Linked DNA regions of Homo sapiens. The protein of the gene in region 1 purifies or fractionates together with the protein of each later gene. This does not show direct contact. Each region holds a gene or a part of one and is shown in the gene's direction. Other genes may lie near its edges. The genes, in order: BAZ1B, DEK and SMARCA1.

Region 1 (10,357 bases):
TGGTGAGATTGAAGGATTGTAGAGTTGTGGGACTGGAGGGAGTGGATTTGGAACATAAGAGGGTATGTTCAAAGAGAGGATGGTGTGAAATTAGTTGTGGGAATGAGTTCTTTTTTTTTTTTTTTTTTTGAGACGGGGGTCTTGCTCTGTCCTCCAGGCTGGAGTGCAGTGGTGTGATCCTGGCTCACTGCACCCTCCTCCTCCCGGGTTCAAGCAATTTCGAGCCTCAGCCTCCCGAGTAGCTGGGGTGACAGGCATGTGCCACCATGCCTGGCTAATTTTTGCATTTTTAGTAGAGACGGGGTTTCACCATGTTGGCCAGGCTGGTCTCCAACTCCTGACCTCAAGTGATCTGCCTGCCTCGGCCTCCCAAAGTTCTGGGATTGCAGGGGTGAGCCACTGCGCCTGGCCAGAATGAGTTCTTAAAAGTGTTGGGTGAGGACAAAGGGGAGTTTGAGGCCCAGGTCAGGAGGTGTCTTTATCTATGAGCAGTGTTCATGTTGTTCTTACACTCACTGATGCTTCTATAAGAAAATGTACCTCAGAGTTAAGACAAAAGTACTTTAAACAGTATCATTTCTACTTAAAAGCATAAAATGCCCTGAATAGGAACCAACAGTGAAAGGATGAAAATTCAGTCTTGTTTCAAGAACAGTGCTTTTTAAACTTTTCAGATATTGCCATTTTGTAGATCAGATATCCTTAATCTGGGGTCCATGGATGGATTCTCTGAAATTGTATGCATAGTTTTTGTCTACTATTTCTGCTGGAGGGGTTCACAGATTTTGTTTAAATATTTAAGAATCATTAATATACATAAACAGAACTAGTTACATAGCAAAAATGTCTAGTATTAAGTCTGGATGTCAAGGGAATTTTGTGTTGACATGACAAAAACATTAGCTAACATTCATGTCTTTGTTTTTTCAGGGACAAAGTATCTATGAAGAGATATGAATATGTAGCTTTACCTGAATAGCTGGGGAAGAGGGCCTTTAAGATGCTTAAATGTTGCTTAAGTTAGTTTTAGATTTTAAAATTAATTTTGCTCCTATTCTTAAATTCTAGTATATGACTCTCAACCCTTCTACTAAGAGGAAGAATACTGGATCCCCAGACAGGAAGCCCTCAAAGAAATCCAAGACAGACAACTCTTCTCTTAGTTCACCACTAAATCCTAAGTTATGGTGTCACGTACACTTGAAGAAGTCATTGAGTGGCTCGCCACTCAAAGTGAAGAACTCAAAGAATTCCAAATCTCCTGAAGAACATCTAGAAGAAATGATGAAGATGATGTCGCCCAATAAGCTGCACACTAACTTTCACATTCCTAAAAAAGGCCCACCTGCCAAGAAACCAGGGAAGCACAGTGACAAGCCTTTGAAGGCAAAGGGCAGAAGCAAAGGCATCCTGAATGGACAGAAATCCACAGGGAATTCCAAATCTCCCAAAAAAGGACTGAAGACTCCTAAAACCAAAATGAAGCAGATGACTTTGTTGGATATGGCCAAAGGCACGCAGAAGATGACACGAGCCCCACGGAATTCTGGGGGTACACCTAGGACCTCTAGTAAACCTCATAAACATCTGCCTCCTGCAGCCCTACACCTCATTGCATACTACAAAGAAAACAAAGACAGGGAGGACAAGAGGAGCGCCCTGTCCTGTGTTATCTCCAAAACAGCTCGTCTTCTCTCTAGTGAAGATAGAGCTCGTCTCCCAGAAGAATTGCGAAGTCTTGTTCAAAAACGCTATGAACTTCTAGAGCACAAAAAGAGGTGGGCTTCTATGTCTGAAGAACAACGGAAAGAATATTTGAAAAAGAAACGGGAGGAGCTGAAAAAGAAGTTGAAGGAAAAAGCCAAAGAACGAAGAGAGAAAGAAATGCTTGAGAGATTAGAAAAACAGAAGCGGTATGAGGACCAAGAGTTAACTGGCAAAAACCTTCCAGCATTCAGATTGGTGGATACCCCTGAAGGGCTGCCCAACACGCTGTTTGGGGATGTGGCCATGGTGGTGGAATTCTTGAGCTGTTATTCTGGGCTACTTTTACCAGATGCTCAGTATCCTATTACTGCTGTGTCCCTTATGGAAGCCTTGAGTGCAGATAAGGGTGGCTTTTTATACCTTAACAGGGTGTTGGTCATCCTCTTACAGACCCTCCTACAAGATGAGATAGCAGAAGACTATGGTGAATTGGGAATGAAGCTGTCGGAAATCCCCTTGACTCTGCATTCTGTTTCAGAGCTGGTGCGGCTCTGCTTGCGCAGATCTGATGTTCAGGAGGAAAGCGAGGGCTCAGACACAGATGACAATAAAGATTCAGCTGCATTTGAGGATAATGAGGTACAAGATGAGTTCCTAGAAAAGCTGGAGACCTCTGAATTTTTTGAGCTGACGTCAGAGGAGAAGCTACAGATCTTGACAGCACTGTGCCACCGGATCCTCATGACATACTCAGTGCAAGACCACATGGAGACCAGACAGCAGATGTCTGCAGAGTTGTGGAAGGAACGGCTTGCTGTGTTGAAGGAAGAAAATGATAAGAAGAGAGCAGAGAAACAGAAACGGAAAGAAATGGAAGCCAAAAATAAAGAAAATGGAAAAGTTGAGAATGGGTTAGGCAAAACTGATAGGAAAAAAGAAATTGTGAAGTTTGAGCCCCAAGTAGATACAGAAGCTGAAGACATGATTAGTGCTGTGAAGAGCAGAAGGTTGCTTGCCATTCAAGCTAAGAAGGAACGGGAAATCCAGGAAAGAGAAATGAAAGGTAAAATTTCATGCTGAGAGAAAAGGGGAAGCTCTGTAGAAGATAGTAAAAGAAAGGAAATTACTGAGGTAATGGTAGGGTCTCTGTTTGTTTACTTATTTCTGTATGTAATAACCCAGCACCTATTGGTATGTATTTTATTTTTTATTAGTTCTGTTGATAATTTCATATTTCAGCTGGAGTGTTCAGCCTGGCATTCTGATTAGTTAATAAGTTAATGTGATGTTGGCATCTTTTCTGGGTTCAGTAAAGGACCAAATCTACAAATAGAAATAGTGGAAACAACATAGGACTTGGGAGTTGACTGACCTGGGTTCAGGTTCTAGCTCTGACTTAGCTGTACAGTGTTCCTTTGGGCAGATTACTTATCCGTGCCTCACTTTCCTCATATGCTTGATAAGATTGTTGTAAAATTGATTGACAAGGTATTTGAAGCCCCTAGCACGGTCACCAACTCAGATAGTAATCTGTCCTTTAAGATTTAAGAACTTAAAAATTTTGGGCTTTGATGGCTCCATCGAATCTGAACTTTTAAAAAGCAGCTTTATTAAGAAATAATCGACATACAGTATAATTAGTTCACTTATTGTGTATAATTTAGTGTTTTCAGTAGAGTCACAGATAATGTACAACCATTGCCAATTTTGTAACATTTTTATCATCTCAAAGAAACCTGCTACCCATGAACTGTCATTACCCCATTCGCCCATCCTCCCCAGCCCTGAGCAACCACTAGTCTACTTTGTCTCTATAGATTTGCTATTCTAGGCATTTTCTCTAAATGGAATTGTATAATAAATAGTCTGTTGTGACTTTCACTTAGCATAATGTTTTACATGCTACAACATGAATGAATCTTGAAAACATTATGCTAAGTGAAAGAAGCCAGTCACAAAATAGACCACCTCTATTTAGTTCTAAAACATTTTTTTTTTTTTTTTTTTGAGATGGAGTCTCGCTCTGTCACCCAGGCTAGAGTGCAATGGTTTGATCTTGGCTCACTGCAACCTCCGCCTTCTGGATTCAAGCGATTCTCCTGCCTCAGCCTCCCGAGTAGCTGGGATTACAGGCATGCGCCATCATGCCTGGCCAATTTTTGTGTTTTTGTAGAGATGGGGTTTCACCGTGTTGGCCAGGCTGGTTTCGAACTCCTGATCCACCCGCCTCAGTCTCCCAAAGTGCTGGGATTACAGGCGTGAGCCACTGTGCCCGGCCAGCCACCATGCCGGGCCAGCCACCATGCCTGGCCCCAAAACATTTTTAAAAGAAAACCCAAAAGTCACTCACTCTTCTCCCTTGTCCACATCCCCCAGCAACCACCAATCTGTTCTCTGCATCTATGGATTTACCTATTCTGGATATTTCATGTAAATGCAATCATATAATATGTAGCCTTTTTATGGCTGGCTTTTTTCACTTAGCATGTTCTCCAGGTTCATCCATGTTGTAGCATGTGTTAGTACTTCATTCCCTTTTATGGCTGGATAATATTCCATTGTTTGGATATACCACGTTTTGTTTCTCATTCATCACTTGATAAACATTTAGATTGTTTTCATCTTTTACCTATTATGAACAATGCTGCCATAAATATTCATGTATGAGTTTTTGAGTAGTCATATACTTAAATTTCTTTAGAGTAAATACCTCGGAATAAGATTGTTGGGTCATATGATTATGTTTAACCATCTGAGAAACTGCCAGACTGTTTTCCAAAGTGGCTGCACAATTTTACATGCCCACCAGCAGTGAATTAAAGGTTCTGACTTTTCTCCTTCCTCATCAATACTTGTTATTTTCTGACTTTTTGATGATAGTCATACTAGTGGGTGTGAAATGGTATCTCATTGTGGTTTTGATTTGCATTTCTTTGATGGCTAATGATGTTGAACCATCTTTTCATGTGTCTCCTGGCCACCTGTGTATCTTTGGCGAAGTATTCAGATCATTTGCCCATTATTAAATTGAGTTATCTGATTATTATTGAGTTGTAAGAGTTCTGTATATATTCTAGATACAATTCTCTGTCTGATACCTGGTCTACAAATATTTTCATCTATTTTGCGTGTTGTCCTTTTACTTTTTTTGGGGGAGACGGAGTTGCGCTCTTTTTTGTGCCCAGGCTAGTGCAGTGGCGTGATCTCAGCTCCCTGAAACCTCTGCCTCCTGGGTTCAAGTGATTCTCTTGCCTCAGCCTCCCGAGTAGCTGGGATTACAGGCGTGTGCCACCACACCTGGCTAATTTTATATTTTTAGTAGAGGTGGGTTTTCACCATGTTGACCAGGCAAGGTCTCGAACTCCTGACCTCAGGTGATCCGCACGCCTTGGCCTCCCAGAGTGCTGGGATTACAGCTGTGAGCCACTGCACCTGGCCTGTCCTTTCACTTTCTTAGTAGTATCATTTGAAGCACAAAAGTTTTTTAAATTTGATGAGGTTCATTTTATCTATTTATTCTTTTGTTACTTATAGATTTGGTGTTAGATTTAAGGATCTTTTGCCAAATCCAGGGTCATGAAGATTTACTCCTGTTTTCTTCCAAATGTCTTAATAGTTTTGCCTCTGAAATTTAGGTCTTTTATTTTCAGCTAATTTTTATAGTGTAAGGTAAAAGTCCAGCTTTATTTTTTTTTGCATGTGGCTCTCCAGTTGTCCTAGTGCCGTTTTTTGAAATGACAAACCTTTCCCCATTGAATGGCCTTGATACGCTTGTCAAAAATCATATGACTGTAGGATACGTTGGCTTATTTCTGGACTCTGAATTCTATTTCACTGATCTGTATGTCTGTCTTTATGTAAAAGCCACACTGTCTTGATAACTTTGCTTTGTAGTAAGTTTCGGAATAGGGAAGTGTTGATCTTCCAGCTTGTTCTTTTTCAACATTTTCTTTTTTATTTTATTTTGAGACAAGGTCTCATTCTGTCACCCAAGCTGGAGTGCAGCAGTGTGATCTCAGCTCACTGCAGCCTTGACCTCTTGGGCTCAAGTGGTCCTCCCACTTCGGCCTCCCGAGCAGCTGGGACTTACAGGCATGTGTCAGCACGCCTGGCTAATCTTTTTATTATTTGTGGAGGCTGGTATTGAACCCCTAAACTCAAGCAATCTTCCTGCTTCAGCCTCCTAAAGTGCTGGGATTACAGGCCTGAGCCACCAAACCCCGGCTTGAATAGTTCTTTCATTAGAAAATGTATATTCCTTTTAAAACAAATTTTAGTTTACACTACTTAAGGCCATTGAAATATTTTTGCATATGTATGCATACTGTGCCTGAGTATACATATGTAATGTGTACTTTCCATTTTATTTATTTTTTTGGATACAGAGCGTCGCTCTGTCGCTCAGGCTGGAGTGCAATGGTGCGATCTGGCTCACTGCAACCTCCACCTCCCAGGTTCAAGCTATTCTCGTGCCTCAGCCTCCTGAGTAGCTGGGATAACAAGGCATCTGCTACCACACTCAGCTAATTTTTGTATTTTTAGTAGAGATGGGGATTCACCATGTTGGTTAGGCTGGTCCCAAAACTCTGACCTCAAATGAACTGCCTGCCTCAACTTGCCAAATTGCTGGGATTAAAGGCATGAGCCACCGCCCCTGGCCATTGTATTAACATTTTAAAGACATATGAACAGGCCAGGCTCGGTGGCTCACAGCCTGTAATCCTACACTTCGGGAGGCTGAGGCAGGCAGATCACGAGGTCAGGAGATCAAGACCATTCTGGCCAACACGGTGAAACCCTGTCTCTACTAAAAATACAAAAATTAGCCTGGCATGGTGGCGCATGCCTGTAATCCCAGCTACTCAGGATGCTGAGGCAGGAGAATTGCTTGAACCAGGGAGTCTGAGGTTGCAGTGAGCCAAGATCGGCCACCGTACTCCAGCCTGGGGGACAGAGCGAGACTCTTGTCTTTTTTAAAAAAAAAAAAAGATCAGCTGGGTGTGGTGGTGCCTGTAATTCCAGCTACTCGGCCTATAATTCCAGCTACTCGGGAAGCTGAGACAGGATAATCGCTTGAACCAGGGAGTTGGAGGTTGCAGAGAGCCGAGATCACACCACTGCACTCCAGCCTGATGATAGAGCGAGACTCCATCTCAAAATAAATAAATAAATAAATAAATAAATAAATTAGCTGGCTGTGGTGGCACACGCCTGTAATCCCAGCTACTTGGGAGGCTGCGGCAGGAGAATCGCTTGAACCTGGGAGGCAGAGGTTGCAGTGAGCCGAGATCATGCCGTTGCACTCCAGACTGGGTGACAGGGTGAGACTCCGTCTCAAAACAAAACAATACCTATCAAGAAAGTATAACTGCGGCCGGGCGCAGTGGCTCAACACCTACAATCCCAGCACTTGGGGAGGCTGAGGTGGGCGGATCACCTGAGGTTGGGAGTTCAAGACCAGCCTGACCAACATGAAGAAACCTTGTCTCTACTAAAAATACAAAATTAGCCGGGCGTGGTGACACATGCCTGTAATCCCAGCTACTCGGTAGACTGAGGCAGGAGAATCACTTGAACCCGGCAGGCGGAGGTTGCGGTGAGGCGAGATCATACCATTGCACTCCAGCCTGGACAACACGAGAGAAACTCTGTCTCAAAAAAAAGAAAAAAAAAAAAAGTATAACTGTGTTCCAGATGAAGCAGAATGTAGGTTAAAACCTTCAGCTCTATTTTATCTGAAACGTAATAATTTCTTCTTGCATTTTTGGACTGCTCCACTGTGTTTTATATTTATCTTAAGAGAAGGAAAAGAAGATGATACTCTGTTATTTGTATGGAAACAAGAGACAGAATATTAGTGTTTTACCAAGATCAGTATTTGGATTAGAGTTCAGGTCTTTGGATAACTAGTTCAGTGCTGTAACCTCTGAGACAGAATTTGGTCTTCCTTTGGTGACTTGTCCTAAGTTGGTTTATGTTTGTTTGTAGTCTTGGGAGACTGAACTTTTCCTTGATTGTAATTGGGCCATCACTCACTCTCTCGCTTTTTTTTTTTTTTAATCATTTACCTTTGTGCTATTTTCTACTATAACCATTGTTACAAATACACAGTTTCACTTGGGCTAGAAAACTGTTTATCAAAGGTAACAAATTCCATGTTTTAAATAAATGGAATTTATCTTAAGTTTTTAAAGTAACATCTTTAGACAGATGCATTTTCCAGATTTACATCTTATTGTAGATGTTATTGTCAATAGACAATCAGGGTTAAAAATTATTGGGGCTGAGTGCAGTGGCTCACATCTCTAATCCCAGCATTTTGAGAGGCCGAGGCAGGAGGATCGCTTGAGCCCAGAAGTTTGAGACCAGCTTGGGCAAACATAGTAAGACCCTATCTCTAAAAAAATAATAAACACTTCTTAAAAATTGTGACATTGTAAATAGCATTGCCATGTACCCTATGGTGTCAAGGTTTGTGACAATTATGGAAAAACTTAACAAAATTAGCGGGCTGCTTTTGTTGAGGGAAATTTCTAACTGAATAAACCTAATTAATGAATGATCAGAAATAAAATTTTTATCATTAACAGTAACTTGCAGAATAATTAGAAAAATAGGTGTTCAATGTAAAATAATTATTATCCACAAGTGCGTCCCTGCTGTTGCTTTTCAGGTTTGTTTTCTTGTCATCAGGGCTATTAAGCCAAATTACTGTCAGATTCCTCAGGACTGAAATATGTTTTATTTTGAAATAGTTATTTTACTAGTTTGATTTATCGTGATCTTTTTGAGGATCCTGTAGGTGCACCTGTCAGAAGATGTTTCAGTTAGTCCTATTTATGGACTGTTAACTGTTTCTTCAGGATTGTTTAAAATATATTAAGAAGTGATATTTTGGCTGGGTGTGGTGGCTCACGCCTATAATCCCAGCACTTTGAGGGGCCGAGACGGGTGGATCAGTTGAGGTCAGGAGTTCGAGACCAGCCTGGACAACATGGGGAAACCCCGTCTCTACTAAAAATGTAAAAATTAGCTGGACACGGTGGTGTGTGCCTGTAGTCCAGCGACACAGGAGGCTGAGGCGGGAGAATTGCTTGAACCCAGGAGGCAGAGGTTGCAGTGAGCCGAGATCGCACCACTGCACTCCACCCTGGGTGACAGAGCAAGACTCTGCCTCAAAACAAAAACAAAAAGAAGTGATATTTTGGAGATAAAAGATTTTGCATTGAGTTGAGGGATGAGATGTCACCACAAATTCAAGGAGTGTAGGAGGACTAGATGTTGCTGCCTTACATGTAATTTCTTGTAACAGATTAGAATTAGAGAAAGCAAACTAAGATTTGATAACTACTGTATACTAGGCACTTTTTACTCCATATTTTATTTAATTTGTAAGAGTGGGATTTACTAGGAAAATATCTGATTTGAGTCTTTTTATTTTTAACAGTGAAACTGGAACGCCAAGCTGAAGAAGAACGAATACGGAAGCACAAAGCAGCTGCTGAGAAAGCTTTCCAGGAAGGGATTGCCAAGGCCAAACTAGTCATGCGCAGGACTCCTATTGGCACAGATCGAAACCATAATAGGTCAGTTCCTAAACCAAATTTTTGTTTTCTTTAGGACTATTTACATTGCTATTAGTTAGGAAAATTTTCTAAAGTACAAGAATAGACAAGCTTCTCTCTTCAGTTTTCCAATTCTTTTTGGAAACAGAATTGTTGATGATTATTGAATATTAACTGCCAAATGCTAGAGTTGCAAAGTTAAGTAAGACATATTCCTGCCCTTGCATATACCACAAGTAGGAAGCTTACATGATGGTGATAGGTGAAATGTAATCCAAGTCTTTAAAAATGGCAGTAGGTTTTAAATACATACATTTTGTGAAACCTAAAGGAGAAATATTAGTAGTTACACAAATTAGGGCTGGGCGTGGTGGTTCACACCTGTAATCCTACACTTTGGGAGGCTGAGTCGAGAGGATTGCTTGAGGCCAGGAGTTCAAGACCAGCCCGGCCAACATAGCGAGACCCCATTTCAATTTAAAAAAGAAAGAAATTATACAAATTACGAACATTAAGCTAGTCTCCAGTTTCAACATTTCTCGTATACTTTGATTTACCTTGCAATTTTTATCTGTCTAGAGTTCTGAAGAGGAAGAATTCTGTAAACTGTGGTTTTGAATGCTCAGTGATACTCTGTATTATCTTCTCCAGCAGTAAAATCATCCTGCAATCCTGATCTATTCACTGTCTTATTAATACTGGTTGTGATTTGTAGATACTGGCTCTTCTCAGATGAAGTTCCAGGATTATTCATTGAAAAAGGCTGGGTACATGACAGCATTGACTACCGATTCAACCATCACTGCAAAGACCACACAGTCTCTGGTGATGAGGATTACTGTCCTCGCAGTGAGTATATCTGTATATCTAAGAGTTATTTCACCCTGCTCAAGTGGGCTCAACATTAAGGACTGCTTTTCCTCTGTCACGTTTTCCATTTGCAGAATTTCTTTATTGTGGTCTTAGATCTATTTGAGTGAAGTAGGTAGATGTGAAATGTGTAGAAAGAAGGAGAGAAACCCACGTTTGATTACCACCTTTGTTCTAAGCATAGTGTGAGAAGATGAAGAGCTTGAATATGAGGA
Region 2 (10,357 bases), on another chromosome or scaffold:
ATCTGGGTTAAGATTACAAGGTGTGCCTTTTGTTTGTTTAAAGTGGTATGTGCCCTAAGAAGGGCATATTTAAGTAAAGCATGGCTTTTTAAATATAAGTTTTCACATAAACTATTGCTTAACAACATGTTATTTTAAAATTATTTTTAATACAACAACAAAATTGGCTGCACTATCTCGCTGCTAGCCAAAGAGGCTCTGCACTTTTTCTCCAATTTTTTGTTTGTATTTTGGTCTTCTGGTGGGGGCAGGGTTGAGATGCCAAAGAAATGGTGAATTTTCTTCATGTCAGGAAAAAATTAGAGAAGTCATGTAAATATACTGTAAGTGGCCAACACAGTAATGCTTGGGGAAGAGTTGGTAGTTGAAAGAATCCCATGTTTTGTTCTAGACAAATTATTTTTAAAAACATGATGTTGTAGAAATTTTATCCCCTAATAGTTTTATTGTAGCTGTGATTTATTATTCTTTTTACTAATTTGAGGTGTTTGTGGGACAAGTAGAATTGTGAAAGTTTTTATTTTACTTAACCCTGAATATTTAACTTTAGAACTGAGGCATCATGGAAGCCAGACAGTGAAATACTTTCTGTATTAGGCTTTTTTTTTTTTTTGCGTTACTATAAAGAAACACTTGAGGCAGGGTAGTTTATAAAGAAAATAGGTTTTATTGATTCGTGGTTCTGCAGACAGTACAAGAAGCATGGCGCCAGTATTTGCTTCTGGTGAAAGCCTCAGGAAACTTCCAATCATGGCAGAAGACAAAGGGGGAGCAGGCATTTCATTTGGGAGTGGGAGCAAGTTGTAGAGGGAGGTGCCATGCTCTTTTAAACAAATCTTGAGAGAACTCACTCACCACCACGGATTACCATGCTAAGCCGTTCATGAGGGATCTGCCCCCATGATTTAATCACCTTACCAGGCCTCACCTCCAGCATTGCAAATCACTTTTCAACACGAAATTTGGAGGGGGCAAACATCCAAAGCATATCATTGCACCCCCGGTCCCCCAACTCTCATATGTTTCTCACATTTCAAGATTCAGTTGTGCCTTCGCAGTAGTCCCCCAAAGTCCGGTCTTGTTTCAGCATTAACACAGAAGTCCCAAATCTGTAAGTCCAGAGTTTCATCTGAAGATGAGTTTCTTCCACCTATGAGCCTGTGAGATCAAAAACAAGTTATTTACTCCCAAGATACAGTGATGGTACAGACATTGGGTAAAATTCCCATTCCAAAAGGGAGAAAGGCCAAAAGAAAGGTGCAATAGGCCCCACACAGTCTGGTTTGGTTTTTGTTTGGTTTTTGTTTTTCTGTGTTTGTTTGTTTGTTTGTTTTTTGAAACGGAGTTTCGCTCTCGTTGCCCAGGCTGGAGTGCAGTGGCCTGACCTCGGCTAACCGCAACCTCTGCCTCCTGGTTCAAGGGATTCTACTGCCTCAGCCTCTCGAGTAGCTGGGATTACAGGCATATGCCACCACAGCTGGCTGATTTTGTATTTTTAATAGAGACAAGGTTTCTCCATGTTGGTCAGGCTGGTCTCAAACTCCCGACCTCAGGTGATCCGCCCGTCTCAGCCTCCCAGAGTTTTAGGATTACAGACGTAAGCCACTGCGCCCGGCCTACAAGTCTGAATCCTAGCAGGGCAGTCTTTAAATCTTAAAGCTCCAAAATTATCTCCTTTTACTGCATGTCTGGCATCCAGAGCACGCTGGTGCAAGGGGTGAGGGGTCCCAAGGCTTTGGGCAGCTCAGGATGCAAGCTGCTTGTGGCTCTACCATGCTGGAGTTTGGAGGTGGCAGCCCCCTTCCCACAGCTCCACTAGCCAATAGAGCCTTGGTGGTGAATCTAGGGGTCCACCCCCCATTTCCCCTTTCCACTCCACACTGCCCTAGTAGAGGTTTTCTTTCTTTTTTTTTTTTTTTTTTGGAGACAAGGTCTCACTTGTCACCCAGGCTGGAGTGCAGTAACATGATCTCAGCTCACTGCAAACTCTGCCTCCCAGGCTCAAGCAATCCTCTCACCTCAGGAACCACAGGCATGCGCCACCATGCCCGGGTACTTTCTGTATTTTTTGTAGAGGCAGGGTTTTACCATGTTGCCCAGGCTGGTCTCAGACTCCTTAGCTCAAGTGACCTGCCCGTCTCTGCCTCCCAAAGGGCCTGGATTACAGGAATGAGCCACCACGCCTGGCCCTGAGTAGCAGTTTTCTGTGAGAGTTCCACCCCTGCAGGAGGCTTCTGCCCAGGCACCCAGGCTTTCTCATATATCCTCTGAAGTCTGTCCTAAGAAAGGGGTCAGATTAGCCAAAATTGGCAGTGATTTTGGGGAAAAGGGAAGTGAGAGAAATGACTAGTAAAAGATGACTCTTAGGTTTCTGTCTTTGGCAGGTGGGTGGATGGTATTAATGTTTTTTGAAAAAAATTCACAAAGTGAGCAAGTTTGGAGATGATTATGATTTTTCTTTTGAATATTTTGAGTTTAGGTGCCTGTAGGACATGAATTGTAGCTGTCCAGATGACAGACAGGCATATACTGTTGGCTCTCCATATCTGTGGGTTCCTCATCTGTGGATTCAATCAACCACAAATTGGTAAAAATGGATGGTTGCATCTGTACTGAACATGTACAGATTTTTTTATTATTCCTAAACAATACAGTATAACAACTATTTACATATCAGTTAAGTTGTATTAGTCATTATGAGTAATCTACAGATGATATAAAGTATATGGGAAGATGGTCATAGGTTACATGTAACTACTACACCATTTTTTTAAAAAATAAGGGACTTGAGCATCCATGGATTTTGGCATCTGAGGGGCGTCCTGGAACCAATCCCTCACAGATACTGAGGCAATATTAGTTAATATGAATCTCAGATGAAAGTTGTGGCTTGGAGATTGACTGGGAAGTCATTAGCTTGTAGTTAGTAATCAGAGACAAGCAAATAGTTTAAATCACTAAGTTGATGAAGTTGAGTGATAGTAGGGGTTGTTTTAGTGTGTTTGGTCTTCATTCTGTACAACATGGCCAGAATATACCTGTTGATAGCCCTTTCTCCTGAAGTATTCTTTCTGTGCGAATCCTTACATTACTAAATCTAAGCTGTCTTTAAAAGCCAGCACACGTGCTTTGTTCCTTTTTCTCTAGTCCCAAAATAATCAATTCCTCCTCAGTGCACAGCAATTTATTTGTGTATCTTTCTTAAGATGTTTTGTTATCTTTTATATTGGCGTATATTTATGTCTCATTTCTTTAGTAGCATCTTTTTCAAAAGATACGCAGTTTTTATCATCCATTTATCCCCTCTTAGTATTGAGTGCAGCTGCACAACACAGGCATTAAATAAATGGCAGAACCTCGAGCAGTATATAGTATTCTTTTATCTGACTTTATTTCATTCAAAAAATGATTTTATTTTAGATAAATGGAGCTTAATGTTTTGAATTTTGAAGTATATGCTACCTGTTTTCTAGATTTTTTTTTTTTTTTTTTTTTTTTTTTTTTTTTTTTTTTGAGACGGAGTCTTGCTGTGTCGCCCAGGCTGAGGTGCAGTGGTGCGATCTCGGCTCACTGCAAGCTCCGCCTCCTGGGTTCATGCCTTTCTCCTGCCTCAGCCTCCCAAGTAGCTGGGACTACAGGCACCAGCCACCACACCTGGCTAATTTTTTGTATTTTTTAGTAGAGATGGGGTTTCACCACGTTAGCCAGGATGGTCTTGATCTCCTGACTGAGTTAGCCAGGATGGTCTCGATCTCCTGACCGAGTTAGCCGGGATGGTCTTGATCTCCTGACCTCGTTATCCGCCCGCCTCAGCCTCCCAAAGTGCTGGGATTACAGGCATGAGCCACCGCGCCTCACCGTAGATTTTTGTGACTAAACAATTTAACTTTGAGTGACTTATGGTCATCATTAGGAATGTTATTCATAAACTACAAAGTAATGCTCTCCCAGTTGATTGCATTAAATGTAAACTTGGAGAGTTTTATCCTATCCACGTACTTCAGGCTGTTCTGCCTGGAAGTCTTTATTTGTGTTTCTTTTGTCAGTTTACTAAATTGTTATTGTTCTCTATATATCTTTTGAAGTTCTTAATCTCCCAGTCTAAATTTGATTATTCCTGAAGTACAGCAAACTGAATCTCAATTATTAAATAGAATTATGTCCAAAGATTAAACAGAGCTAGATTTTTTTCACAAACGAAGTGACTGGACTGTAATGGCAATAATTTTAGTTGGATAAAAATTAGTTTGCTTTCTAATTTTTTTTTTTAACTGAGTCCCTGTGAGTGCCAGGTGAGTAAAATGTTACTCTGAAAAAATTTTCATGGTGCTCTATTAATTAATCAAGTGTTTTCCTCTTTTATGTCATTTGCTTTCCAAAACCATGCTCAGAAGAAGAATAAAGTATTAGGTTTTGGGGACTTTGTTCTACATGTGTATCTAATAAAGTTAATACAATGTTTAAGCTTTTTGTTAATTAAGAAATACTAAATTAATTTCTAGAAAAGAGTCTCATCGTGGAAGGCAAGAGGGAAAAGAAAAAAGTAGAGAGGTTGACAATGCAAGTCTCTTCCTTACAGAGAGAGCCATTTACAATTGCACAAGGTAAGTTTATTCTAGCTTCCTTTCATTTTGTGGTGAAAGTGCCTAAATTTGTGAAAATGATGGTTTGTAGCTTAGTATCAGCAAGGTAGTGTTTTATACTTTTGGTATAATTTTATTTAATTTGCTCTGTAAGAGCAGAGTTACATGTAAATTATGCTGTGAAAATAATTCTCATTAAATTAACTTTGTAAATGTATTAGTAAGCCATAGGTATTTAATTGTGATTTTTTTTTTTCCCCAGGAAAGGGGCAGAAACTTTGTGAAATTGAGAGGATACATTTTTTTCTAAGTAAGAAGAAAACCGATGAACTTAGAAATCTACACAAACTGCTTTACAACAGGCCAGGCACTGTAAGACCTTTTTACACTTTAAACCTACTTGTATATTACTTCACAATGGAATCAATTTCTGTAAATGTTAGTGATCCACTAGTTCAATTTCCACACTTTATGACTGAGCAGACTGAGGTATATACTTATTAAATGATTTATCACAGGAAACACAGCTGGATATTAGCACTTGGATTATAATATCCAGGGCTCTGTCTTCTTTTTTCTTTTTCTTTTTCTTTTTTTTTTCTTTCTTTTAAGACACGGTCTCACTTTGTCACCCAGGCTGGAGTACAGTGTGCAATACATGGCTCACTGCAGCCTCAACCTCCTGGGCTCAAGTGTTCCTCCCGCTTAAGCCTCCCAAGTAGCTGGGACCACAGGTGCATGCCACCATACTGTGTCTGGCTAATTGTTTTACTTTTTGTAGAGGCAGGGTTTTGCCATGTGCCCAGGCTGGTCTTGAACTCCTGAGCTCAAGTGGTCCTCCCACCTTGGCCTCCCAAAGTGTTGGGATTACAGGTGTGAGCCAGTATGCCCAGCTCTAGGGCTCTTTCTCCTGTAGTAGTTTTTATTCCAAACTGAAATTTCAAATTACGAAATCCAAATTGTGATGAAAGGTTTTAGTGACCTTTAAATGTATTGAAAGAAATTCATGTTTTTGGATTTTCTCGACATTCAGAATAAGTGAATGTCGGTATGATTTGTATGAGATCATACATATGATCTCATTTGTATCTCATACAAATAAGAGGCAAAATCATTTGTATCTCATACAAATCTCATACAAAGTGAATTTGGTGTAATTGTATCTCATTTTTAGCAAATACCTGATAAATTGGATGATAGTTCTTTGCTAAAGGATTGTTATTATACTGTACATATGACTTAGTATATTATATAATCGAGGGAACTGCTTTAGGTTGTACGTGGGCAAAGTAAAGTTGGGTGTTAGAATGTCTGAAGTAGAATAGAATGTCTGGTGCATGACATAATTTATTTTCAGTGAGTCTGTTAATCTCATTTAATCCTTAAACCAATTTAATTTACACAAGTCCCATAACTAGTGAACGGTATTAGCTTTTTGTGGTACTCGCTATTCTTTACTTTGAAAGAATAAAGTCCTTCTTGATTTGGAAAAGAAGAATTACTAGTAACTTTATTACTTATGAAAAGGATATATTTTTAAATAGTAACTTTCCACATCCCCTGGTACTGTCAGGTAACTTTTGGTTGTGGTAAAAACTCCCCAGTGAAAATTTGTTCAAATTGTTCTTTTCAGAGACTTAAGTTTGTAGGATTTTTATAATGTTAATATGTTAATGACAAATACATTTTTCAGTTTTGAATAAGAAATGTTGAATATTGAACCCATATTGAATTGGTTGACTGTTCAGCCAGTATTGTAACTTACAGACAGGTATGAAAATAAAGATGTTGACTTTGAATTGGCTTTGAATTTATTCTTGTGTACATTACTGGGTAATAAATACCATTAATAATAAGGAACATTTTCAGGTGTCCTCATTAAAGAAGAATGTGGGTCAGTTCAGTGGCTTTCCATTTGAAAAAGGAAGTGTCCAATATAAAAAGAAGGAAGAAATGTTGAAAAAGTAAGTTATTTTTATAAATACTGTATTTTGATCAATATGCTTTAAGTTTATTTTTTAATGTTAAATCACATTCGGGCCAGGCACAGTGGCTCACACCTGTAATCCCAGCACTTTGGGAGGCTGAGGCGGGCGTATCACCTGAGGTCAGGAGTTTGAGACCAGCCTGACCAACATGGAGAAACCCCGTCTCCACTAAAGATACAAAATTAGCCGGCTGTGGTGGCGCATGCCTGTAATCCCAGCTACTTGGGAGGCTGAGGCAGGAGAATCGCTTGAACCTGGGAGGTGGAGGTTGCGGTGAGCCAAGATTGGGCCATTGCACTCCAGCCTGGGCAACAAGAGCGAAACTGTCTCAAAAAAAAAAAAAGAAAAAAGATTCATAGAAGCATTGGCCACTTTTTTAAATGTATGTAACTGAGCCAATTTGGTTGGCTTTCCCTTTATATTGTGGAGAACATATGTAAGCTTTCCTATATTAACACCTTGGTTTCTTCCATTTTCTGTTTCAGATTTAGAAATGCCATGTTAAAGAGCATCTGTGAGGTTCTTGATTTGGAGAGATCAGGTGTAAATAGTGAACTAGTGAAGAGGATCTTGAATTTCTTAATGCATCCAAAGCCTTCTGGCAAAGTGAGGATCAATTTTTATTTTTTTCATAAATCAGTTATTCATAGCCTCTTTATATGAAACAAAAATTGATTAATAACAGCATTGCTGTCAGTATTCGTTCATATCTACATTCAAAGACTATACCTTCTGTTGACGTATCTGCAGTAATTTCCTGATAGAAATAATATAGATGCCATAGGGGTATGTTGCTTCGGAAAATCAGATACAAGGGATATAAGGTTAAGAATAGTGAATTAATGTCAGAAGGGACAGAAAGTACTAGTAGTCAGGGTTAGGTATCTAGAAGACACTGGAAGAATAGGAAGAGGTTGGGCTGAGGATGAGGTGCAAGGCTGGAGGGAAGGGGTGCAACCTGTAATCAAGTGAAGACAAAATAGGGAGTATATTAGAACTGGATGTTTTCCTAGATCCTGGAATAAAGTATTAAAAAGTGACATTTAAAAGCTAACTCTTACAAGTTTCCTATATTGGGTTTCCAGAATCTGCAGCAGAGCCCAGGAGCCAGACAGGGAAGTAAAATGGCCTTACAGTTTTCTCACTCTTCCTAAAAGCTAGTAGGTTTGCCCTAATTATTTAATGGTAACGAATGACATAGGTGACTTAAAATGTCTGTTGAAGTGTTACATGACCTTGCCTTTTTAGTGTGATTTAGGTCTGTCAGCAAATGTTTTTATATTCTTCCCCATCTTGACAGGAAAGGAAGTGTGAGAGATCTAGCAGGCCTAGGAGTTCAGGGGAATGCCATCTCTGATGGGAGATGGCATTAATCAAAACCAGAAAATAGCTCTAGGACTTCGTTTTCGTCCGCCCTTGGTCCTTATTACCATTAGCTGCACGAGGACAGATAAACAGCAGTTAAAGTGTAAACTTTTGTTATACAACTACAAACGCAAGGGGTATGATGATTTTTGGTGTTTTAAATTGGCTTGTTTAAAGACAAAATACTTCTTATTTTCTAACTTTTACTATAGCTATACTTGTACTTTTTAAGGATTTAGTGTGAGGCAAGGTGATCACTATTTCCTCAGAAGCAATTTACTAGGTTGTTATGACAGATATTTTTATATTTATCTTTTTCTCAGTGGTTTTCCAATTTATTGGTTTCAGGATACTGTTGCCCTCTTAAAAAATTAGTGAGGACCCCAAGAGCTTTTTTTAATATGAGTTATTTTGATCTTCACTGTATTTGACATTAGAACTGAAAAATTTTTATTTTAAAATGTTAAAAATAATATTTTCTAGGAAAAATAACTTTTCAAAAGAATGAAAGAGTGGCATTTTATGTTTTTGTACATCTGTTTAATGTCTGGCTTAAGAGAAAACAGCTTGATTACCATTTGCTTCTGCATTCAGTCTTTTTGTGTTGTTGTTGTTGTTACTGTTGTTGTTACTGTTGTTTTGAGACAGATTCTCACTCTGTTGCCCAGGCTAGAGTGCAGTGGCACAATCTCTGCTCACTGCAACCACTGTCTCCCAGGTTCAAGCAATTCTTCTGCCTCAGTCTCTACAGTAGCTGGGATTATAGGCGTGTGCCACCATACCTGGCTAATTTTTGTCTTTTTAATAGAGACGGGGTTTTGCCATGTTGGCCAGGCTGGTCTCGAACTCCTGACCTCAGGTGATCTGACCGCCTCGGCCTCCCAGAGTGCTGGGATTACAGGCGTGAGCTACCGTGCCTGGCCGCATTCAGTCTTTTGCAATGTATTGTTTTGTTTAAAATCTATGAAGGGCCTGATGCAGTAGCTTATGCCTGTAATCCCTGCCCTTTGGGAGGCCGAGGCAGGTGGATCACTTGAGCTCAGGAGTTCAAGACCAGCCTGGGTGACAGAGTGAGACTGTCTCAAGAAGAAATTAGCCAGGCGCTGAGGCACGCTCGTGTAATCCCAGCCACTTGGGAGGCTGAGGTGGAAGCCTGAACTCAGGAGGTCAGTGCTGCAGTGAGCTATTTTCATGCCACTGCATTCCATCCTAGGTGACAGAATGAGATCCTCTCTCAAAATAATAAGTATATGAAGAAAACCGAGCCTCACATAAAAAGAATATTTTTAAAGTCTTTTTAGATAATTGTGTATATTCTCTTTTTGATACCATACAATACCAAAACTCTACATAAGTTGTAGTTTCCTAAAGATTAGTTGTAATGTTTAATGTAGGTCTGAAACCAGGTTAATTAACTTGGGTCTTGTATGTATAGTTTTGTAACATGCATTTACCGCTTGTAAATATTGGTTCCCTGAATTATGTCTTCCAAATGTTGACGTTTTATTGAACACTGTCATTAAATCATGCTCATTAATATAAATATCATCTCATCAGAAAAATTACTTAGGCCTTGGTAAACTATCAAGTTCACAGTAGTAGATGTGAATTTTCCAGAATTCTAGTTCCCACTTGAAATCATAACGTTTATCATTGGCGATAAATGCTCTCAGTTTTCCTTGAAGTGACAAGCTCACCTTGTTCATGTTTGAAAACATCTCTATCAAATACCTAAGTCTGAGTTAGCCATATTTGTTCTTTTAAAAAGTGGTGTTCTCTGGGAGGTGAAGCTTGCAGTAAGCCGAGATCGTGCTGCTGCACTCCAGCCTGGGCGACAGAGCGAGACTGTCTCAAAAAAAAAAAAAAAATGTGGGGTTCTATGAAAAAGGAGCTTGGAGCGTGTTTAGCTCACAACTCAGATACACAAATGCTTTTCCTTCAGAAAACCATTGAACTTCAGTTGTAGCCATATTTATGTATATCTTCCATTTTGTCACAGATATTAGAAAGACATGTACTTGAGAGTTAACACAGTATTTATTGTTTTATCAAGGACATTATTAAGTGAAACCATTTGCCTTGTTTGTTTCTGCTGGTGTGTGGTTGTGAGGAATACAGTGACTAATATATGTTGCTTCCTTGATTAGTACTAAGGTGCCATCAATTTTACCCACCTTTGCTTTCCTTTGCTTTTGCAATTAGTACAAATGTCAACACAGTGAAAAGAGCAGATAAATAGTGTTGCTATTATTATGAAAATAGTTTCTACCTCGGAGACTCCGAAAAAGGTCTCAGGAAACCCCAAAGTCCTTGAACCACACTGTGAGAATCTGTTTTTTCTTGTCATATAGAATCTTAACTCTTATGTCAGTTTTTCATATGTGATTCTGTGATGATTACTCCTTAATCTGATAGTATCGA
Region 3 (10,357 bases), on another chromosome or scaffold:
ATCGTCTGACTCAGTTCCTGTAACCTCTGCTTAATTGGCCTCCTCACTTTTATAGGGAAAGGAACTAACATTTGTCAAGCAACTACTATAAGCTAGGCAACTTAAAGTTCCAATTGAATTCTCCCAGCAGCGCGGTAAAGTATTGGTATAATTTTCTCCATTTGAAACTGTGTCTCAGAGAGATTAAATACTTGCCCAGAATCACAGATGTAATCAGTGGTGAAGTTGTGATTCATGCCCAAGTTTTTGCTATTTCCTCTACGCCAAGGTGCCTCTCACTACACCACGCTGCTTTCTATACTGCCCCCTTTACCTGCTCTGCTGACTGTGACGGTGGTAGTTACCTTCTCTGCCTGAAACTTTGACCATGCCATCCATTTATTTTAAAAAAGATTGCCCATACTTTGTGATTATGCAAGTAATATATGACTGCTGAAGGAAGTTTTGAAATTAAATACAAGTATTTCTGGCCTATCTTTTTAGGTATATGTAATATGTATAAGTAATTGGTATCAGACTTCATATACTATATGTAAAGTACAGTATCCTGATACTATTTACTTAATATTATATTGTACTTTTTAATGTCCATAAAAAATAATTGTAAAAGTAATTTTAGGATAATATTTCACCCTATGGATGTACTATAAGTAATTCATCCCCCTATTCTTGATCGTTTAGGTTGTTTCAAAATTTTCACTATTATAAATAATGCTATAGTGAAAGTCCTTATACATAAATCTTTGTGCACATCTCTGATTATTTCCTTAGGATAAATTCCTAGAAGTGGAATTTCTGGGTCAAAGGGTATGAACATTTTTAAGGCTCTTGATGCATATTGCCAAATTGCTTTCCAGAAAGGTTGTACCAATTTATACTCCCAGCAGCAATGTATGAGAGTGCCCGTCTCACCGCCCCCTCATCAACATTGAGTATTATCATTTTTTTTAAATCTTCAAAAATGTTATTATGTTGTTTTAGTTTGCATTTATTTGATTACTAGCGAGAATGAACATTATTATTGTGTTTTCTAACCATTTGTATTTGTTCTGTGAGTTGTCTGTTCTTTTTTTCTGCTCATTTTTCTACTGGACTTTGTTTTTCTAATTAATTTGTATGAGATCTTTATATAGTAAGAATATTCATATTAATTTTAACATTCTTTACTAAATATCCCTGGATTGTCATCCTGATTTTCTTCATTACTTACCTGCTTGTTCCTTGTTACCATACTGATAGAAATCTTCTTACTTTCCCCTTTATCCGTTGCCCTCATTCCCATTTGTAAACCATTTTCTCTGTTGGTTGATCTTCTAAACTAATCATTCATAAGCTAATGGAAATGAAGTTGAGATTTCTGATATTTTACCTCCTAGATATATTTCAGCTCTCACTCAAAACGTTTTCATTATTATTGTTTTTAAATAATGTAAATGAATTATTACTTGCTTAGTTAAATTTGTGTATGTAATTGTTCTAAATTTGTATCTATCGATGTAAGCTTTTAAAGATTAGGAACTTCATTTATATAATATACTTTCTACAGAAATTCACACAGTACAGTATATGTATAGATGCTTACATATTTTTGAAGATGGAAGAATATTATAAAGTATATTTATAAGGAATATTATAAAGTGTGTGAAGATTTTCTATATGTATTTTAAATGTTTTTATTTGTTTCTTAAGGACCCTGATGGTCTAATTTTATTTTTCTCTTTTTCTTCTATCCCTTTATCAATAAAAAATAAAGGAAGCAATAGAGGCTTTTAATGCTCCTAATAGTAGCAAATTCATCTTTATGCTAAGTACCAGGGCTGGAGGTCTCGGAATTAACCTGGCAAGTGCTGATGTGGTTATACTATATGATTCAGACTGGAACCCACAGGTTGATCTACAAGCTATGGTTAGTAATCTTTAATGGTGTCAGAAATTTATCATAGCTCTGAATACTATTGCTATTTACACACATAAAGGTCATTTATGATAAAAAGGTAACAATTTTTGAGAGATTTTATAGAAGTTACAGTAGATTATCCTGGAAAACACAGTTGCTATGCTAATTGCAAAAACAAAAGAAATGAAAGCGAACAACAAACACACCCCAGATCCAACTTATAGCATTTATGTGTTGATTTTGGTTTTTTTCATGAAATAGAAATGTCAGTTTTTTCCCATTCCTACAGATTGAAGAGGACACATAAATTTGTTTTAATGAAAAGGATTAAAAAACAATCTCTTGTTATTATTCTGTTCAACAACTAAATATATTAAAATCCTTAGTACTGAAATTAAGAGAGGTAGGATTTTAACTTTCATAAAAAACAATTTGGGAGAGAAGGCAAAAAGGTAAGAAAGGAATATATTCCAGAAAAACACTTGCTACTTAATAATGATACCATGCAAAAGCTATTCTACACTTAAAAACATTTTTTTTTAGGGAGCAAAGTTTCTCTGACCTTTCATCATGACACTACAGGTAACCCCTTTGATATTTTGGTGTCATTTATTGAACTAGAGCTACAACTTCTCTCAATGTGACTCACATTTTCAGATAAAGAAATATAATTTAGAAGTAAAAAGATGCAAAATAACTTCTTAGGTTTTGAATATATAGCTATGGATAAGTGTCTTTTTGGGAGCAATGAAAAGTCATATGCCAATGAGGTATAACTTAGAAGGCTTTCCTTTTATAATAGAGAATTGAAAGGGATTGACCACTGGGACATTCCAAAATCAATATGCTTTGGCGTAATTATTATTGCATTACGATGGTATTGAACTACCTGTTTGATATGACTAACTAGGAGTAAGCCCCAGTAAGTTACAGTGTTACTGAACTGGAAAATCTAATAGTGATAGCACTTCATTTCCGTAGAAGTCTTAGTGTGCATCCCATCTTTCAGGATTTGCTGGTTCAGGTTTAATGTAAATATGTGCAGGGGATTGCATTCTGTTTGAAAAATGTGCTGTGTTGAAACTTTGTTACTAGGCTCTAGTGTTTTTATATTTAGTACAAGGCCTGTTTTGAACTTACATTTTTTTTTTCTCTACCACCCTCCTCCCTTTACCTATTTGCTCTAGCAGCTTCTGTGTTTTAAAAATACTCTCCCTAGATGGTTTTATACCACTAGAAGTTCGCCACCTGTCACCTGTACCAACTATAAACCATAGGACCAGTCCTAGGCTACTGAATAGTAAGGATAGTAATATCCCATTAATTTTTATAACTCTTTACTGCATATCCCTCAGTAAGCAGAAAGAAGTGCCTGATGATGAAATAAAGCAGACTTTTGCCACCATAGCAACCCTAACTACTTAATAAAATTCCTTGCTAGTTTCGAAGATGTTTATATTTAGTGGCTTAAAGTTACTTAGTAACTCAATCCAGAAACTTTCAGCTCCCTCTTTTATTCATCTTACAGGTGCTTTGCCCTTTGTCCTGGAAGTTTCCCATTAATGGTACAATATAATATTTGCAGATTTCTTTGTTCCCAGTGGTCTTTAGATATTCTCAATATTCATCATGCTCTTTTCCAAAGTGTCAGATCTAGAGAAAAATAACTAATTTTATTTTTAGAATTTTATAGCATATGATGGCTCTAAATTTTATCCAGAATATCCAATATCTTACATTAGAACTCTTTCTACTAGGATCGAGCACATCGTATTGGTCAGAAGAAACCAGTACGTGTATTCCGTCTCATCACTGACAACACTGTTGAAGAGAGGATTGTAGAAAGAGCTGAGATAAAACTGAGACTCGATTCAATTGTTATACAACAAGGTATTTATACATAGAAACTTAATTAGGTGTTTTTTGTAAAACACATGTAGTTTTCTTCAAAGGAGATTACTTTTAATAAAAGTTGACCAAAATTTGAAAACTTAGAGGAAAAATTGAAACATCACTGTGTATCCCATGAGTCTGTACAATTGTTATGTATCACCTAAAAATAAAAGGAAAAAATTTAAAAATGCTAATTGAGGCTGGGTGAGGTAGGTCATGCCTGTAATCCCAGCACTTTGGGAGGCCGAGGCGGGTGGATCACCTGAGATCAGGAGTTTGAGACCAGCCTGGCCAACATGGTGAATCCCTGTCTCTACTAAAAATACAAAAAATTAGCCGGGTGTGGTGGCGTGCACCAGTAGTCCCAGCTACTCAGGAGGCTGAGGCAGGAGAATTGCTTGAACCTGGGAGGTGGAGGTTGCAGTGAGCCGAGATCGCGCCACTGCACTCCGCCTTGGGCGACAGAGCAAGACACTGTCTCAAAAACAAACAAACAAACAAACAAACGAACAAAAAATGCTAATTGAAATCTTCTGAATTGAAACCCTGGCATTTGATATATGGAGTAGTTGAACATCACTAGCTTATTCTTGAATGTCAGTAGCATGCTTTTTGAAGTACCTGAGATTATTTAGCAGATAAAATGGCTACTTTTAAATTTTTGAAAACATATTAGAGGGTACCTTTTCATATAGAGAAGTTTGATCTGAAAACAGAGTTTGAACATGAAAAAAAGTTTCTGTCCTTCTGGGTTTTAACTGAGTTTTACAGAAGGGAATTTATATAGAAATAGAAAGTATGCTAGAAGAAAAACTTGTAGGGTTTATTAAACAAATAACCTTAATGCTCACTAATTTTTTGTTCTTTAAAGCTTTATGTGTGGTTAAATGTGATAATGTCTGATTAGAATGATTATGCCTTCTTTGGAATATGATTGATTGAATATGTACAATTTCAATTTTTATCATTAGGAAGACTCATTGACCAACAGTCTAACAAGCTGGCAAAAGAGGAAATGTTACAAATGATACGGCATGGAGCCACCCATGTTTTTGCTTCTAAAGAGAGTGAGTTGACAGATGAAGACATTACAACTATTCTGGAAAGAGGGGAAAAGAAGGTTAGTTAAAATAGCATTTTATTTTCATGCTGGATTGTTTTAATATCAACATACTTCAGCATACTTATATTTTCATTGTACATGTTTATCTGCATTATCTACATGTTTCAGGTAGCTCATATTCTCTCCAACAACTTGTAGATCTATTTCCAGGGGTAGATTAAGGCTTTAAAACTTTTTTTTGGTGAGAAAGACTAAGAACCAGAGTTTAAAATTGAGTGACCTTATATCTAATGCTTTATTGAAAATACTATATCTAAAAGCCAAGTAAATTTTGTGTTTAATCACATGTATAAGGAATGCTTTTTTTTTTTTTTTTTTTTTTTAAAGAGACAGGGTTTTGCTCTGTCACCCAGGCTGGAGTGCAGTGGTGCAATGATAACTCACTGTAGTCTCCACCTCCTGGGCTGAAGTGATCCTCCCACCTCAGCCTCCTGAGTAGCTGGGACCACAGGCATGTACCAACATGCACATCTAATTAATTTTCTTTTTTAGAGACAGGGCCTTGCTGTGTTGCCCAGACTGATCTTGAACCTCTGGCCCCAAGTGAGCCTCCCACCTCTGCCTCCCAAAGCACTGAGATTATAGGCATGAGCCACCATGCCTGACCAGGACTGTATTTTTATAATCTTTTTTTTTTTTTTTTTTTTGCACTGGACTAGAAATCATCTACTGATACATTGGTTAATTGAAAATCTTTTATAAAACATTTCATGAAATGCTAAATCACTATTTGTTAAAGCATAATAAGTTGTTTCAGAATATTGTAATTTTGTGTTTAGTTCACCTTCCCCTCTCCACAAATTATGGATAATTTTAAACATAAGTAAAAGTAGACAGAGTAGTATAATGAGCCCCGAAGTACTTATCACCTGTTTCTAACAACCATCAACCAGTCCTGTTCTGTCTATATCCCCAGTTATCTTTCCCCTCCTTGGATTATTTTGAAGCAAATCTCAGACATACTTCAGCTGTAAATAGTTCACTGTGTATTTCTAAAATAGAAGGACTCTTTAAAGATAATCATTATAACATTGTCTCACCTGAAAAACCCCAATAATTCTTTAATAACACCAAATATCCAGTTAGTATTCAAATTTACAATTGTGTCGTAAATATTTATACTTAAAAAGTTTTCTTTTCATTTTTAAATCAGAATGCAAATCAAAATACAAATTGCCATGGTTGAGATTTCATCTCTATCTTTTAAAATCTATAGGCCCCCTCTCCTGCCATGTATTGTATTCCTTGTAATTTATTTGATGAAAAGACTAGGTTGTTTGCCTTTTGAGTTAATCACAGTGTGGATTTTGCTGATTTCATCTCCATGGTGTATTTTACTATGTTTGTTGCATATCTTGTAAACTGGTTGAATTTGCTTTTCAGAAGAATTTTGTAGTTCAGGTAATAACCTGCATTTTAAATGATCTTGTGTTAATATGTTTCATACCAGTATGCAAAATGTGTATTTTTAGTCCATCTTTGCCTTTCTCTTAGCTTTAGCTATTTGTCCCATTTAAATTATGCAAGAGCAATTATAATGTGGGTACAACTTCACTGACAAAAGATTTTAAAGAAAGCCTAAGTGAGAGTACTTGGGAAGCACCATTTAAATATTTGAAATACTTGGGCAAGTAAAATTTGCACTTCAGGTTTGATGTTAGCATTGCATTCATACCTTGTAAATTAGCAGACTGGATATTTCATGTCAAAACCTGACTATTAAAAAGGTAGAGAATCCACAGACTTTTACAAGTAATTCAGTGATAATTTTCTCATTTCAATGTTTTCACCTTTAGACTGCAGAGATGAATGAACGCCTGCAAAAAATGGGAGAGTCTTCTCTAAGAAATTTTAGAATGGACATTGAACAAAGTTTATACAAATTTGAGGGAGAAGATTATAGAGAAAAACAGAAGGTAACTTTTTACTCTCAACCATTAGACCCTCAAATGAGCATTTCTCCCCATAACAATTATAAAATAACACTGGCACTTACCTATTATAATACCCTGCTCTAGAGTGAAATTTGATATAGGTCTAAATATCTCATGCAAGGTATATCTTTCGTTTATTTTATTGGTTTATCGTCGTCGTCGTCATCATCATCATCATCATCATCATCAATTTTTGCTGTTGCTGCTGCTGCTGCTACTACTACTACTACTGCTTAGTACTACTTTTGTTATTGAGAAGCAGTGTAGGATTGAGGTTGAATTCCTGAATTCTGGAGCTGAAATCTCAACTCTTGTCACTAATTAAGTGACTCTGGGTATTCTCAATTTTCTCATTTATCAAATGGAGGTTATAATAGTTACATCATAGAGGGATTCTGATGATGAAATGAGTTAATACTCATAAAGTTATTAGAATAATGCCTGACACTTAATGTTAACTGTATGAATAATAATATTAGTAACATTTAGTTACTTAAATGCAGAAGGACTTTGTTACATGTGGTCTGTTGAAGAAATGGGGGTTTTATTTATCTTGTTTTTTAAACTGAAATTAAGGCTGAGATTTTAAAACTTTTTATTTTTAAATTACTTTAGACTTACAAAATAGTTGTAAAAATAGTACAGAGCTAACCTATAGCCTTCACTCAGCTTCCCCTAATATTAACAATTTACATGTTAGTATAATGATCACAACCAGGAAATTAACACCAGTTTTTCTCCTAATGTCCTTTCCTGTGCCAGGAAAAGGACATTGGTTAATTATCTAATTAACTGGTGTTAGATTCCAGGGGATCTAATCTAGTATCCCACAGTGCATTTTTAAAAAAATAGACTTTATTATTTTTTCCTTCTATTTTTAGTTGACACATACTAATTGTACATATTTATGGGATACAGAGTGATATTTTGTTACATATATACAATGTGTAATGATCAAATCAGGGTAACTGGTATATCTACTGTCTTAGCACATTTGTGTTGCTGTAAAGGGATACCTGAGGCTTGGTAGTTTATAAAGAAAAGAGGTTTATTTGGCTCATGGTTCTACAGGCTGTAAGAGAAGCATGGTATCAACATCTGCTTCTGGTGAGGGCCTCAGCCTGCTTTCACTTATGGCAGAAGGCAAAGGAGAGCTGGTGTGTGCAGAGACCACATGGCAGAGACAGAGAGAGAGAGACAGTACCAGAGAGAGGAGGGAAATGCTAGGCTCTTTGTCAGGAACTAATAGAATGAGAGAACTCACTCATTACCTCGAGGACTACACCAAGCCCTTCATGAGAGATCTGCCCCTATGACCCAAACACTTCCTATTGGGCCCCACCTCCAACACTGGGGATCAAATTTCCATGTGAGATTTGGAGGACAAACATATCCAAACTATAGCATTCTGCCCCTGGCCTCCCAAATCTCATGCCCTTCTCACATTGCAGATTATAATCATTCCATCCCAATGGTCCTCAAAAGTCTTAATTTGTTCCAGCATCAGCTAAAAAGTCCAAAGTCTCATCTCAGTCTCAATGCAAGTTCCTTACAGCTGTGAGCCTATAAAACCAAAAACAAGATATTTATTTCTAAGATACAATGGTTATATAGGCATTGGGTAAACATTTCCATTCTGAAAGGGATAAATCAGCCTAATGAGAGGGGTACCAAGCCCCATGCAAGTCCAAAACCCAGCATTAAAGCTCCAAAATGATCTCCCTTGACTCTGTTTCCCCCATCCTGGGCACACTAGTGTGAGAAATGGGGTCCCGAGCCCTTGGGCAGCCCTGCCTCCAGGGCTTTGCTGGGTACAGCCCACGTGGCTGTTCTCATGAATTAGAGTATGGTGCCTGCAGCTTTTCCAGATAGGAGTTGCTTGATGCTGGTGGCTCTGTAATTCTAGGGTCCCTGCAACACCCCCAATTCCACTAGGCAGTGCCCTTGTTGGGGACTTTGTGTAGGAGTTCCAACCTCACATTTCCACTCAGCATTGCCTTAGTAGAGTCGCTCCACAGGGCAGCGCCCCTGTGGCAGGCTTCTGCCTGGTAATCCAGGCTTTCCAATACATTGTCTGCCATTTTTCCCTCTGTAATTGATAAATACCTTGTGGGGAGATCTTTCTCAGACTTTTACTCACTGATTTTAGCATGTACTGGTGGAGCTTGCCTGCAGTAGTTATTATTGTGGTGTTTGCCTAATGGTAATTTTGTATTTTCTTCATTCCATCTATATGTATTTATTAATTGATATTTTTCTGTGTGGAAGATCTACCCCTTCTCCCCAATTTATTTGTGTCTTCAGTTATTTATTTATATCAGTATGGACTCATGGATGTTTTGAGTTATAATCCAGTTCTATCTTTATATATTTTGTTGCTCAAATTGCTCTATAAAGCTGTTATATTTTTGAACTGACAGAAATGAATTTTCTTAAAATAAAAAAGCTCATTCTTAGGTACTTATTTTACTGAAAAATGAGAGGTGAGACATTTTGGTTTTGCACTGTAGCTAGTATGCTGATAATGCTTTGTTTCTGTTACTGCTTCTGATAGCTTTTAGTTTCTTGATTTGTATTTGTCAGGTTGTCCTATCTCTAATCTTCACTTAGACGGCTTATATTTTATCCTGCTGAGATGGAGGTGATGGCCTATCTGCACAGGGTGGAAATTGCCTTTCTAATATGCTTTTGAGATCTCATTATGTGATATAAGTTTTATTAATTTTACAATTATTCCTGCAGACTTATGGATAATAGGAGTGTTTTATGAAGTGGAAAAATTTTAAACAATGAAGTCTAAATACCAGTGGAGCTTCTTATCCACATTTTTAGAGAAAAATTAGTAAAATACTTGGCTATCTGTAACTGGTTTCCTTGTGCTTCTAATTTTAGCAAAGTAATGATGCGTAAAGAGAATTTTAATAACCATGATGACTTGTATTTTTATAATTAAATGTCTGACAGTAACAGTGGTGTCCAGAATCACATTTTTTTCTGAATATTCTGAGCTGAGATTATATTTTATTTCTGCCTCTTTGTGTTTTCTAGATAGGTTCTTAAAATAGGTTTAAATTATCTTTTGAGGAGAAGTGAAAACTTGAAAGAATATCATTTTTAAATCATGGAAACTATACATTGAGGTAGATTTTCATATATGGTTTGTTGAATCAGTTGCATTACTTTTACAACCATACCTGGTAAATTAAATCATGATGGCTGTGATCCTGAATAAATTAACCCAGATAAGTTAGCATTAATGTACTCTTATGTAAAGTAAACTAATTCGGTATGATTTATTCTTTTTTTTGAAAGTTGAGGAATTGGCCTTCAATGTTTGTTTCAAATTTGAATGCCTAGACCATCAAACAAGTATAGGTTAAATAGCTAAATACATCACTTGTAGAATGTTGGTTTAAATTATTATTAATTTATTTTTACTCCAATTGAGAAAGATAAAATATTGGTTATTTATAAAATATCTCTTTCATTACTGTCGCTTCACATTAATCC

What was found.
Region 2: the proteins of BAZ1B (region 1) and DEK purify together in Homo sapiens (affinity purification with western blotting; 2 studies listed by BioGRID, with this or other methods). This does not show direct contact.
Region 3: the proteins of BAZ1B (region 1) and SMARCA1 purify together in Homo sapiens (affinity purification with mass spectrometry; 2 studies listed by BioGRID and IntAct, with this or other methods). This does not show direct contact.

What each region holds. Positions count from the first base shown.
Region 1 is NC_000007.14:73,469,281-73,479,637, reverse strand, and holds part of BAZ1B (tyrosine-protein kinase BAZ1B), read left to right. Parts: intron 1-1,068; coding exon 1,069-2,770; intron 2,771-9,154; coding exon 9,155-9,293; intron 9,294-9,987; coding exon 9,988-10,121; intron 10,122-10,357. UniProt on the Homo sapiens protein: Atypical tyrosine-protein kinase that plays a central role in chromatin remodeling and acts as a transcription regulator. Involved in DNA damage response by phosphorylating 'Tyr-142' of histone H2AX (H2AXY142ph).
Region 2 is NC_000006.12:18,252,551-18,262,907, reverse strand, and holds part of DEK (protein DEK), read left to right. Parts: intron 1-4,502; coding exon 4,503-4,604; intron 4,605-4,845; coding exon 4,846-4,955; intron 4,956-6,452; coding exon 6,453-6,547; intron 6,548-7,056; coding exon 7,057-7,177; intron 7,178-10,357. UniProt on the Homo sapiens protein: Involved in chromatin organization.
Region 3 is NC_000023.11:129,483,490-129,493,846, reverse strand, and holds part of SMARCA1 (SWI/SNF-related matrix-associated actin-dependent regulator of chromatin subfamily A member 1), read left to right. Parts: intron 1-771; coding exon 772-807; intron 808-1,753; coding exon 1,754-1,906; intron 1,907-3,654; coding exon 3,655-3,787; intron 3,788-4,761; coding exon 4,762-4,910; intron 4,911-6,709; coding exon 6,710-6,829; intron 6,830-10,357.